Linked DNA regions of Homo sapiens: region 1 is linked to region 2. The links come from fine-mapping of genetic effects on gene expression. A gene starts in region 2. The other region holds a variant in brackets. All regions are shown on one strand. Distances are between the middles of the regions. Region 1 overlaps LOC105370169 (a long non-coding RNA gene). Region 2 holds the start of PROSER1 (proline and serine rich 1).

Region 1 (5,377 bases), 20 kb after region 2:
AATACCTAATATGTACTTTTTCAGCCCTCTCCCTCTCCCAACCCCCTCCCTCTTATATTCTTCAGTGTCTGTTGTTCCCATCTTTATGTCTGTGTGTACCCATTGTTTAGCTCCGACTTGTGAGAACATGTGGTATTTGGTTTTCTCTTTCTGTATTCTCTCACTTAGGATACTGGCCTCAAGCTGCATCCATATTGCTGCAAACAGCATGACTTCACTCTTTTTTATGGCTGCATAGTATTCCTTGGTGTATGTGTACCATGTTTTCTTTATCCAGTCCAACATTGAAGGGTATCTAGGTTGATCCCATGTCTTTGCTATTGTGAATAGTGCTGCAGTGAACATGGATGCATGTGCCTTTTTGGTAGAATGATTTATTTTTCTTAGGTTATATACCCAGTAATAGGATTGCTGGGTCAAATGCTAGTTCAGCTCTTAGTTCCATAAGAAGTCTTCCATACAAAAAAAAAAAAAATTAGCTAGGCGTGGTGGTGCATTCCTGTAATCCCAGCTACTTGGGAGGCTGAGGCAGGAGAATCACTTGAACTAGGGAGTCGGAGGTTGCAGTGAGCCAAGACCGCGCCGATGCACTCCAGCCTGGCAACAGAGCGAGACTCTGTCTAAAAAAACAAAACAAAACAAAAAAGAAGTCTTCCAACTGCTCTCCACAGTGGATGAACTAATATATTCCCACCAACAGTGTATTAGTGTTCCCTTTTCTCTGCAACCCCACCAGCATTTGTTATTTTTGACGGTTTAACAAAAGCTATTCTGACGTGTGTGAGATTGATTTGCATTTATCTAATGATTAGTGATGATGAGCATTTTTCCATTTGTTTGTTGGCCACTTGTATGTCTTCTTTTGAGAAGTGTCTGTTCATATCCTTTGCCCACTTTTTAACAGGGCTATTTGTTTTTTGCTTATTGATTTAGTTCCTTATAGATTGTGGACATTAGGCTATTTTCAGGTGCATAGTTTGAGTGTTTTCTCCCATTCTGTAGGTTGTCTGTTTACTCTGTTGATAGTTTCTTTTGCTTTGCAAAAGCTCTTTAGTTTAATTAGGTCCTACTTGTCAATTTTTGTTTTTGTTGCAATTGTTTATGAAGACAACTGTAAATTCTTTGTCAAGGCCAGTATTGAGAAGGGTATTTCCTAGGTTTTCCTCAAGAAATGTTATGGTTTGAGGTCTTATATTTAAGTCCTTAATGCATCTTGAGTTAATTTTTACATATGGTGATAGATAGGGGTCTACTTTCATTCTTCTCTATATGGGTAGCCAGTTATACCAGCATCATTTATTGAGTAGAGAGTCCTTTCTTCATTGCTTATTTTGTTGACTTTGTCAAAGATCATATGGTCACAGGTGTGCAGCTTTATTTCTGGGTTTCCTACTCTGTTCCATTGGTCTATGTGTCTATTTTTATAACAGTACCGTGCTGTTTTGGTTATTGTAGCCTTATAATATTGTTTGAAGTCAGGTAATGTGATGCCCCCCCACTTTGTACTTTTTGCTTAGGATTGTGTTGGCTATTCAGGCTGTTTTTTGGTTCCATATGAATTTTAGAATAGTTTTTTCCAATTCTGTGAAAAATGATCTTGGTGCTCTAATAGGAATGGTGTTGAATCTATACATTGCTTTGGGCAATATGGCCATTTTAATGATGTTGATTCTTCCCATCCTCGAGTATGGAATGTTTTTCCATTTGTTTGTGTCATTACTGATTTATTTCAGTGCACTTGTTGTTCTTCTAGTGGTCTCTCACCTCCTTGGTTAGATGCATTCCTAGGTATTGTATTCTTTTTGAGGCTATTGTAAATAGGATTGTGTTCTTGATTTGGCTCTTAGCTTGAACATTATTGGTGTATAGAAATGCTACTAATTTTTGTACACAGATTTTGTATAATGAAACTTCACTGAAATTGTTTATCAATTCTTAGAGGCTTTGGTGGAGGCTTTGGCATTTTCTCAGTATAGAATCATATCATCAGGGAAGAGAGATAGTTTGGCTTCTTTTATTTCCTATTTCTGTGACTTTTATTTCTTTCTCTTGCCTGATTTCTCTGGCTAGGACTCCCAGTACTGGGTTGAATAGGAGTGGTGAGAGTGGACATTCTTGTCTTATTCCAATTCTTAGGCAAAATGCTTCCAACATTTGCCCATTAAGTATGATGTTGGCCATGAGTTTGTCATAGCTGGCTCTTATTATTTTGAGGTATGTTCTTTCAGTGCCTAGTTTGTTGAAGGCTTTTATTGTGAAGGGATGTTGGATTTTATTGAAGG[CT/C]TTTTTTTTTTTTTTTTTTTGGTCTATGGAGATGATCACATAGTTTTTGTTTTTAATCCTGTTTATGTGGTGAATCACATTTATTTACTTGTGTGTGTTGAACTATCCTTGCATCCCATAAATAAAGTCTGGTTGATCATGGTGAATTAACTTTTTGATGTGCTGCTGGATTTGGTTTGTTAGTATTTTGTTGAGGGCTGTTGCATCTGTGTTCATCAGGGATATTGGCCTGCAGTTTTCTTTTTTCATTGTGTCTCTGCCAGATTTTTGGCATCAAGATGATGCTGGTTTTGTAAAATGAATTAGGGAAGAGTCCTTCCTCCTTGATTTTTTTTGGAATAGTTTCAGTAGGATTGATACCAGCTCATCCTTGTACGTCTGATATTATTCAGCTGTGAATCCATCTGGTCCAGGACTTTTTTTGGTTGGTAGGATTTTTATTACTAATTCAATTTTAGCACTCATTATTGGTCTTCTCAGGGTTTCAGTTTATTCGTTCAATCTTGGGAAGTTGTGTGTTTCCAGAAATTTTTCCATTGCTTCCAGATTTTGTTTTCTTTTCCTTTCTTCCTTTCCTTTCTCTATTTCTCTTTCTTTCTCTCTCTCTCTCTCTTTCTCTCTTTCTTTCTCTCTCTCCTTCTTTCCTTCCCTTCCCCCCTACCCTCCTTCCTTTTCCTTCAGTTATTTATTTATTTATTTTGAAACAGAACCTCATTCTGTCACTCAGACTAGAGTGCAGCGGCGCGATCTTGGGTCACCGCAACCTCCGCCTCCTAGGTTCAAGTGATTCTCCTGCCTTGGCCTCCTCAGTAGCTGGGATTATAGGTGCATGCCACCATGCCAGGCTAACTTTTTAATATTTTGTTAAGATGGGTTCTCACTGTGTTGCACAGGCTGTCTTCTAGATTTTCTAGTTTGAGTACATGGAGATGTTTTAGTAGTTAGTCTCTGAGGATCTTTTGTATTTCTGTGGGATCAGTGGTAATGTCATCTTTGTCTTTTCTGATTCTACTTATTTGTATTGTTACTCTTTTTATTAATCTAGACAGCAGTGTATCAATCTTGTTTATCCTTTCAAAAAACTAACTTTTGGTTTCATTGATCTTTTGTGTGTATTTTTGCATCTCAACTTCATTCAGTTCTGCTCTGATTTTAGTTTTCTTCTGCTAGCATTGAGGTTCCTGTTTTTCTAGTTCTTCTGGGGGCAATGTTTGATTATTAATTTGATATCTTTCTAACTTCTTGATATAGGTATTTTGTACTGTAAACTTTTCTCTTATCACTGCTTTCATTGCATCCCAGAGATTTTGGTATGTTGTGTCTCTGTTTTTATTAATTTTTGAGAAATTTTTTATTTCTGCCTTAATTTTATTATTTACCCAAAAGTCATTCAGGAGTAAGTCGTTTAATTTCCATGTATTATGTGGTTTTAAGAGGGCTTCTTGGTATTGATTTATATTTTTATTGCACGGTCATTGGAGAGTATGGTTGGTATGATTTTAATTTTTTAAAAGGTACTGAGACTTGCTTTATAACCAAATATGGTTAATCTTAAGAGTGTGTTTCCTGTGCAGTTGGGAAGAATGTATATTCTGTGGTTGTTGGGTGTAGTATTTTGTACATGTCTATTAGGTACAATTGGTCATGTGTCAGGTTTAAGTCCAGAATGTATTTGTTAGTTTTTTGCCTTGATAGTGTAACACTGTCAGTGGGGTGAGGTCCTCCAATATTGTTATGTGGCTTTTTTTTTTTTTTTTTTTTTTGAGACGGAGTTTCACTCTTGTTGCCCAGGTGTCACCACACCAGGCTAATTTTGTATTTTTAGCAGAGACAGGGTTTCCCCTTGTTGGTCAGGCTGGTCTCGAACTCCCAACCTCAGGTGATGCGCCTGCCTCTGCCTCCCAAAGTGCTGGAATTACAGGCATAAGCCACCACGCCCAGCCCTGAGTCTTTTTGCCATTCTACAAGTGCTTGTTTTATCAATATGACTTCTCCAGTGTTGGATGCATATGTATTTAGGATAGTTATGTTTTGCTGAATTGAACCTTTTATCATTATATAATGCCCTTCTTTGTCCTTTTTGACTATGTTGGTTTAAAGCTTGTTTTGTCTTATGTAATAATAGTTACCCTGCTCTTTTTTGCTTTCTGTTTGCATGATAGATTTTTCTCCATTTCTTTATTTTGAGACTATGGGTGTTTTTACACGTGGGATGGGTCTCTTGAAGATAGACGGTTGGGTCTTGACAGTCTGTGCCGTTTAAGTGGGGCGTTTAGACTATTTATGTTCAAGGTTAATGTTGATATGTAAGGATTTGATCCTGTCATTTTGTTATTAATTGGTTGTTTTGTAGACTCAATTATGTAATTGCTTTGTAGGATCTGTTGTGTATGTACTTAAGTGTGTTTTTGTGGTATCAGATATTGTTCTTTCCTTTCCACATTTAGAACTCTCTCCTTAAGTACCTCTTGTAAGGCAGGTCTGGTGGTAATGAATTCCCTTAGTCTTTACATGTTTGAAAAGGATTTCATTTCTCCTTTGCATGTGAATCATAATTTGGCAGGATATAAAATTCTTGGTTGGAATTTCTTTTCTTTAAGGATGCTAAATATACATCCCCAGTCTCTCCTGGCTTGTAAAGTTTCTGCTGAGAACTCTGCTGTTAGCCTGATGGGGTTCCCTTTGTAAGTGACTTGGCCTTTTTCCCTAGCCACCTTTATGATTTTTTTTTTCCTGTTGACTTTGGAGAATCTGATGACTGTGTGTCTTTGGGATGGTTGTCTTGTATAATATCTTGCAGGTGTTCTCTGGATTTCTGGAATTTGCATGTCTACCTCTCTAGTGAGATTGGGGAAATTTCTGTGGACTATATCCTCAAATATGTTTTCCAAGTTGCTTACTCTCTCTTTTTCTCTCTCAGGAATGCCAATGAGTTGTAGAGAAAGTTTGTTTCTTTCTTTAAAAATTACTATGTCATCTCTCCTGGACCATTTTACTGGCTTCCTTGGATTGAGTTTAAACTTTCTCCTGAATCTCATTGAGCTTTTTTGCCCTTCAGATTCTGAATTCTATGTCTGTCATCTCTCTCAGCCAT
Region 2 (5,377 bases):
TTATCTATCATATAAACTCACTGTGATACTCAAGAGATGACCTGGTTTAAACTGACTTACATTTACAAAGAACGATTTTTAAGAAAATCAGTAGTAATGCTCATATTTAGATATGCCAATATTTTATTCCATTTTAATAGACCATGACAATGTTGATGTGTCTAATCACTCGGCAAAGCCAGCAGAAGATATATTTTAACTGCTGACCAGAAATACAGACTTAAGTTGCCATCTCATGTGAACAACACTTTCATATCTGGAAAATTTCCTATTCCCCTCTTTAGAATTTACTGTGACGTTTTTATGACACCAGGAAGAGAATATGCACACTGAGACCCTGTATCTTCCAAAAGTAAAAATCTGCTGGTCTACTTGGACTCACCAATTATTTTCTCATGAAAAGTAATTAAAAATCAGCCCAAGAACAAATTGTGACAAATTTCTAGGCATATAATTAGCAAACCAATATTTTATTTCAAAAATTAATTGGACACTTAGGTTTGCAAAAGCAGAACTTGTTCAAAAAAGAATGTTCAGTATTATCAAATATGAAAACTTAAACACGTCAATTTGAAAAAAGAAAAAAGCTGTATAAAAACAAAGCAAAACAGCAAGACCAGAGACAATTTTAATAATAGCTTTGTAAACTGAAATAAGCACCAGAGCACATGGCAACAATTTCTTCCGTTTCAGTCAAGGGTCGTAAAGGTATGCAGCTGACGAAAGAATAATTGCCCGGAAGGCCGAAGGAAAGCACCGTGTGTTGATGTAACAATGGTACATCAAGTCCTTACATTTTAAAATAAGTAACTTCTCGGTATTTTTGTGCTTGAGATATTGTTAGGCTCAAGACTACCTTCCAGAATTGTTGCTGTCTGGTTCACTCTGGGAAATGCGATCCACACAACAGCCTCAAAAAGCAGCAAAAACTTGGAAAGCAGGAGAAAAAAGTTTTGAAGCTCAAGTTATTGACGGCCAATTCCTAAGAACGTGACTTTAAACTTAATGCCACACTTACCATCAGGACACGAATTTTGCATGGCCAACGCAACAAATATACTCTACCTTATGCTTAGATTTGAAAACCCCATCATAATAACTACCATAAAAGAAACTTTCTGCGTATTACCTCTCGTTTTCAGTCACTCTTGTGTTACTGAAAGATGAGGCAATAAACTCAAAAATATTAAACCCCTTACCCAAAAAGTACAGAGCTATTACGGATTTGTAAAGCCGGCTTTGGAACCGAGGGCTTTACAAATGTAATTCCCACGACACCGTGCTGAGTCTCAAATTTGGCGTTAACGTAACTTAATTTCTATTTGTACTGGAAACGTATCAAGATATAAACTCCTCCATTACACGTGAAAATTCAAACCAATTTGGCAATCCTAGGACCCTTATTCTGCACAATCTCCATACAGTACCTCAAAGAGAGTCTAAAACACGAGAATTCATCTCATAAAATAATTCATGGAATCGGTCTAATTACCTTTCTAATTTCATCCAGCACCATTTCAAAGGACTTTTTATCCATCTTGACTACTATCCCGACGTGGTTTTAACAGTTATACTTGCAATTAAAAGACGTTCATCCCTGGTCTGCTCCGCCGATAGTAAAAAATATTTATAGCTGAGGAGGAAAAAGACTCCACGAGCAAGAGAGGATGCGAAGAGGTAGAGAGTATTGCAAACTTCGCAAAAAAAATTTCTAAAAATTGAGATTCAGAAAAACTCTTTTTATTAAAAAGAAAAAACACTCCAGTCAGGCTTCCCCAGCTTATTCACACAATGGTTCAGGGCACCTCGGGCAAGAGCCAGGTCCTCTGAGTTTTGCAGAAAAACCCGGGCTCGGCGGCAGGTTTGAGTGCGGTTTCCCTGCAGCTGAGGGCCAGGTGCCGCCAGAGGTAGCTCTTGAAGGCGCTTTCCCAGGTGGAGCGGCCGGCAGAGTAGAAACACCTGCGCTCAGAGTCCACGGGCGGCGGGGAGGGAGGCGCCGGTCTCTCGACCCGCACCTGCGCCTCGGCCGCCGGCCGCGACCCTCACCGCCGCGAACCCGGACGCATGGTCCGGCTCGCGCTCATCCCCAGCCGCTCCGCCCGACTCCTGGATACCTCGGCCCCGGCAGCAGGCGGCCCGGCAGGCTCTTTGTTACCAGCTGCTGCAGCTTCCGGGAGCGGGCCGGCGGCTGGGGAGCACCAGGAGCCGGGCGAAGAGGGGCACGGCCTCGCATAGGGGGACTCCGGAAAAACGCAGCCCCAACAGCGCCAGACGCCCTGCCTGGTTACCCCTACAGCCCCCACCAGCTCATGGGGACCTACAATAAAGCCAGTCGCGCCCAAGTAAACTCAACACTGCGCCGCCAGCTTGGGCCCCTCTTTCCTGAAAGCCAGAGGTGGGGTCCTGGTGTGGGAATATAGGCATCCATAGCGGATGCCTGGATGGTAGGAATAGGATGTGGCAAAAATCCTTCCCGAAGCCTAGCGGTCATTATTTTGAATGTCATCCCCACCATACCTCGTGTCTGAGTGTGCGATGTTTTGATTTTGCCCTCTGGATTAAAAAGAATAAATGGCGAGCGATTAAGGCATATCTACGGGCGCCCATACTTTGGTGGCCACTGAAAGTCAGCGGCGCGGACTGCCCTGAGGGCGGGAAAGGGTGGTCACTGGGTCAGCCCGAAGCACCTGACATGAGGGCGGGGACCCCGAAATGCACACGAAGTCCGGAACTGGTCTTCTGTGATTTTCATTCGCCCTGGTCTCTGTTCCCTTTCGTACTCAAAGCTCGTGCATCCAGGGAGGGGAAACCGGAGATAGGGTCTTCGGGCCCCGGGCAGACCCTCTGTGCCGCTGCAAACCGTTGCAGCCTGAGGCTGTCAGGTCCTCCCCCAGACACCTGCGGACCCTCCCTCTCCTGGCTTCCCGTCTGGTCATGGCGAGATTCTGGGTCTGCGTAGCCGGTGCTGGCTTCTTTCTTGCATTTTTGGTTTTGCATTCGCGTTTTTGTGGCTCTCCAGTGAGTTGGGTAGTGAGGAAATGACTGTCGGGTGTGCGGGTAGCCCTGTTGGGAGGCGTCGCCACGGTCGTGGCATGGAGGTGGCAGGCCCTGGTTCCCTCAGTAGCTTGTCTCAAAGCCTGCACCTGGGTCCAAACTGCCTTGACCCTTTGAGTTTAAAAATTTGTGTATGTTACATCGCCATTTTCCTCTTTCCCAACTCTTACTACATCCTCAAATAATTTGCAGACTTGTATTGTGGTCGTGTTGGTCTTTAGGCATCTAAGCTCATTTCTTTGGAATTATTTCAGTCCAGCAAACTTCTAGTTGTCAAGGCATGCTTAAAAATAAGCCCTGTTACCCGGCCCCCCCGCCCTTTTTTTGTTCTTACCTAGACGGTAAACTAAATCTGAATTGTCTGATTTTGTTTAAGGTTTTGAGGAACTTTACTTTTGCAGTTTCCTGGAGAACTGAGAAAATTCTTTACCGGCTGGATGTGGGTTGGCCTAAGCACCCAGAATATTTTACCGGAACAACATTTTGTGTTGCAGTTGACTCCCTCAATGGATTGGTTTACATAGGTCAAGTAAGTAAATAGAGATTTAAAAAAATTATGAACACAAAGGAAGTAACAGCCTTCCTGTCTTGCTGTAGTAACTGACCATATGCGTTTATATCATGCTAATTGTGCAATTTATTTTTGAGTTGGTCTCAAGTATTTTGGTTTCGAATGTGAAAGATATGTTAGATTTTGAAAGTGGTTTTTGTAGTAAAATTCTCAGTTATTTTTTTTCTTCGCCAAGATACAGATTACCTTTCCTTTAAGCTGATCCTAAGAAGTTATTTTTTGTATACCTTCAGAGAGGGGATAACATCCCAAAGATATTAGTGTTCACAGAGGATGGATATTTCCTACGAGCCTGGAATTATACAGTTGACACACCTCATGGTATATTTGCAGCCAGTACTCTATATGAACAATCCGTCTGGATCACGGATGTAGGAAGTGGTATGTATAGTAATATCTATTAAATTATCTTACTGGAAATCACATCTTTGCACATGTCCTTGTTTGTATTGTTTAAAATCAGAGTTGCTGAATCTAATTGTAATTTCTTTAACGATTCATGAAATCACATGTTTTTAACAAACTTTATTTTGTACTTCTGTGGAATTAAGAAATTTAACAAGGGCTGGACGCCGTGGCTCACGCCTGTAATCCCAGCACTTTGGGAGGCCGAGGCGGGCGGATCACGAGGTCAGGAGATCGAGACGATCCTGGCCAACACGGTGAAACCCCCGTCTCCACTAAAAATACAAAAAAAAAAAAAAAAAATCAGCCAGGCGTGGTGGCGGGCGCCTTTAGTCGCAGCTACTGGGGAGGCTGAGGCAGGAGAATGGCGTGAACCCGGGAGGCGGAGCTTGCAGTGAGCCGAGATCGCGCCACTGCACTCCAGCCTGGGTGACACAGCGACACTCTGTCTCAAAAAAAAAAAAAAAAAGAAAGAAATTTGACAAGGAGCCTGTTAATATGATCTTTCCTTGAACTTGTCTAGGGTCTTTTCCTCTTTAAAGCATCAGTTGCTCTTCTCAGATTAAATAACTCTAAACTGAAGCCAAATAAAGTGGCAGTCTCTGAAAGCAATGACTGGAATCCTTGACTCTTATTTTCCTTTTCCAGTTTTCTTTCATAAAAGATTGTGAAATCGTAACTGCTTTGTTGCTCAAAGTGCAAAGATTGCAGAAACTGTTGTTAATGTTTTTGAAATTCTACTGACTGAAGCATGTCTGAAATCTTCCTGCCATCAAATATTTTTAGTAGAAAAAGCTGAAAAATGAAGTGAGCACAACTGAATGTGCAGCTATGGAGAAAGTTTTCAGAGAAACAATTCACCTGTGGCTGTAGCTTAAGACAAGGCAATACCTGAGATATCCTGGCATTACCCTAGGAATTCAGGAAGAAATGGGATTATAAAGACATTATTTCTAGTATTCCTTGGCCCAGTTATGTTCTTGAATTGAGAGACATCCTGGTTCTACAGTCCTGGCTGATTCAGATACCATTTTTTAGAGATAATGAGTTCTCAGTTTCTGTAAGTAGTGCCATTATCACAGCTGTTCTCAGAACCCATAAGATTTCTGGGCCTCAGCTGATGGCCCATTTATTTCATGCTGTGTTTTACATAGTATGAATCTGGTTCAACCAAAAAAAGTCTATAGATTATCACTGAGTGAATTGTTAATACTATAATGAGAGTCTATTTTCACTTTTTTCCTGAAGATCCACTGTTAAAGACCATTTCTTTGAGTTCATTTTATTCATGTGATTTTTAAAAATAAGACTTCCTTGATTCCCAGAAATAAAAAGAGCACAGACGAT

Evidence for each region. PIP is the estimated chance that this variant, and not a neighbour inherited with it, causes the effect. A credible set is the group of variants that fine-mapping cannot tell apart.
Region 1: its variant is the best candidate, but not a certain one, in a credible set for the expression of PROSER1 in whole blood (INTERVAL, PIP 0.87).

Annotation. Positions count from the first base shown.
Region 1 is chr13:39,056,000-39,061,376 of GRCh38, forward strand. All of the region lies in intron 1 of LOC105370169 (a long non-coding RNA gene), which reads left to right. Among named protein-coding and RNA genes, the nearest start is that of NHLRC3, 20 kb to the left of the region's middle. The variant CT/C (reference allele first, on the strand shown) is at 2,283.
Region 2 is chr13:39,035,706-39,041,082 of GRCh38, forward strand. PROSER1 (proline and serine rich 1) reads right to left here and starts at 2,384. Exons shown (of 13, transcript NM_025138.5): 1 at 1,493-2,384. The coding sequence starts at 1,537. It overlaps NHLRC3 (NHL repeat containing 3), which reads left to right and starts at 2,751. Exons shown (of 7, transcript NM_001012754.4): 1 at 2,751-3,018; 2 at 3,431-3,583; 3 at 3,859-4,006. The coding sequence starts at 2,935. RefSeq lists an enhancer at 613-722 and a silencer at 1,865-2,094.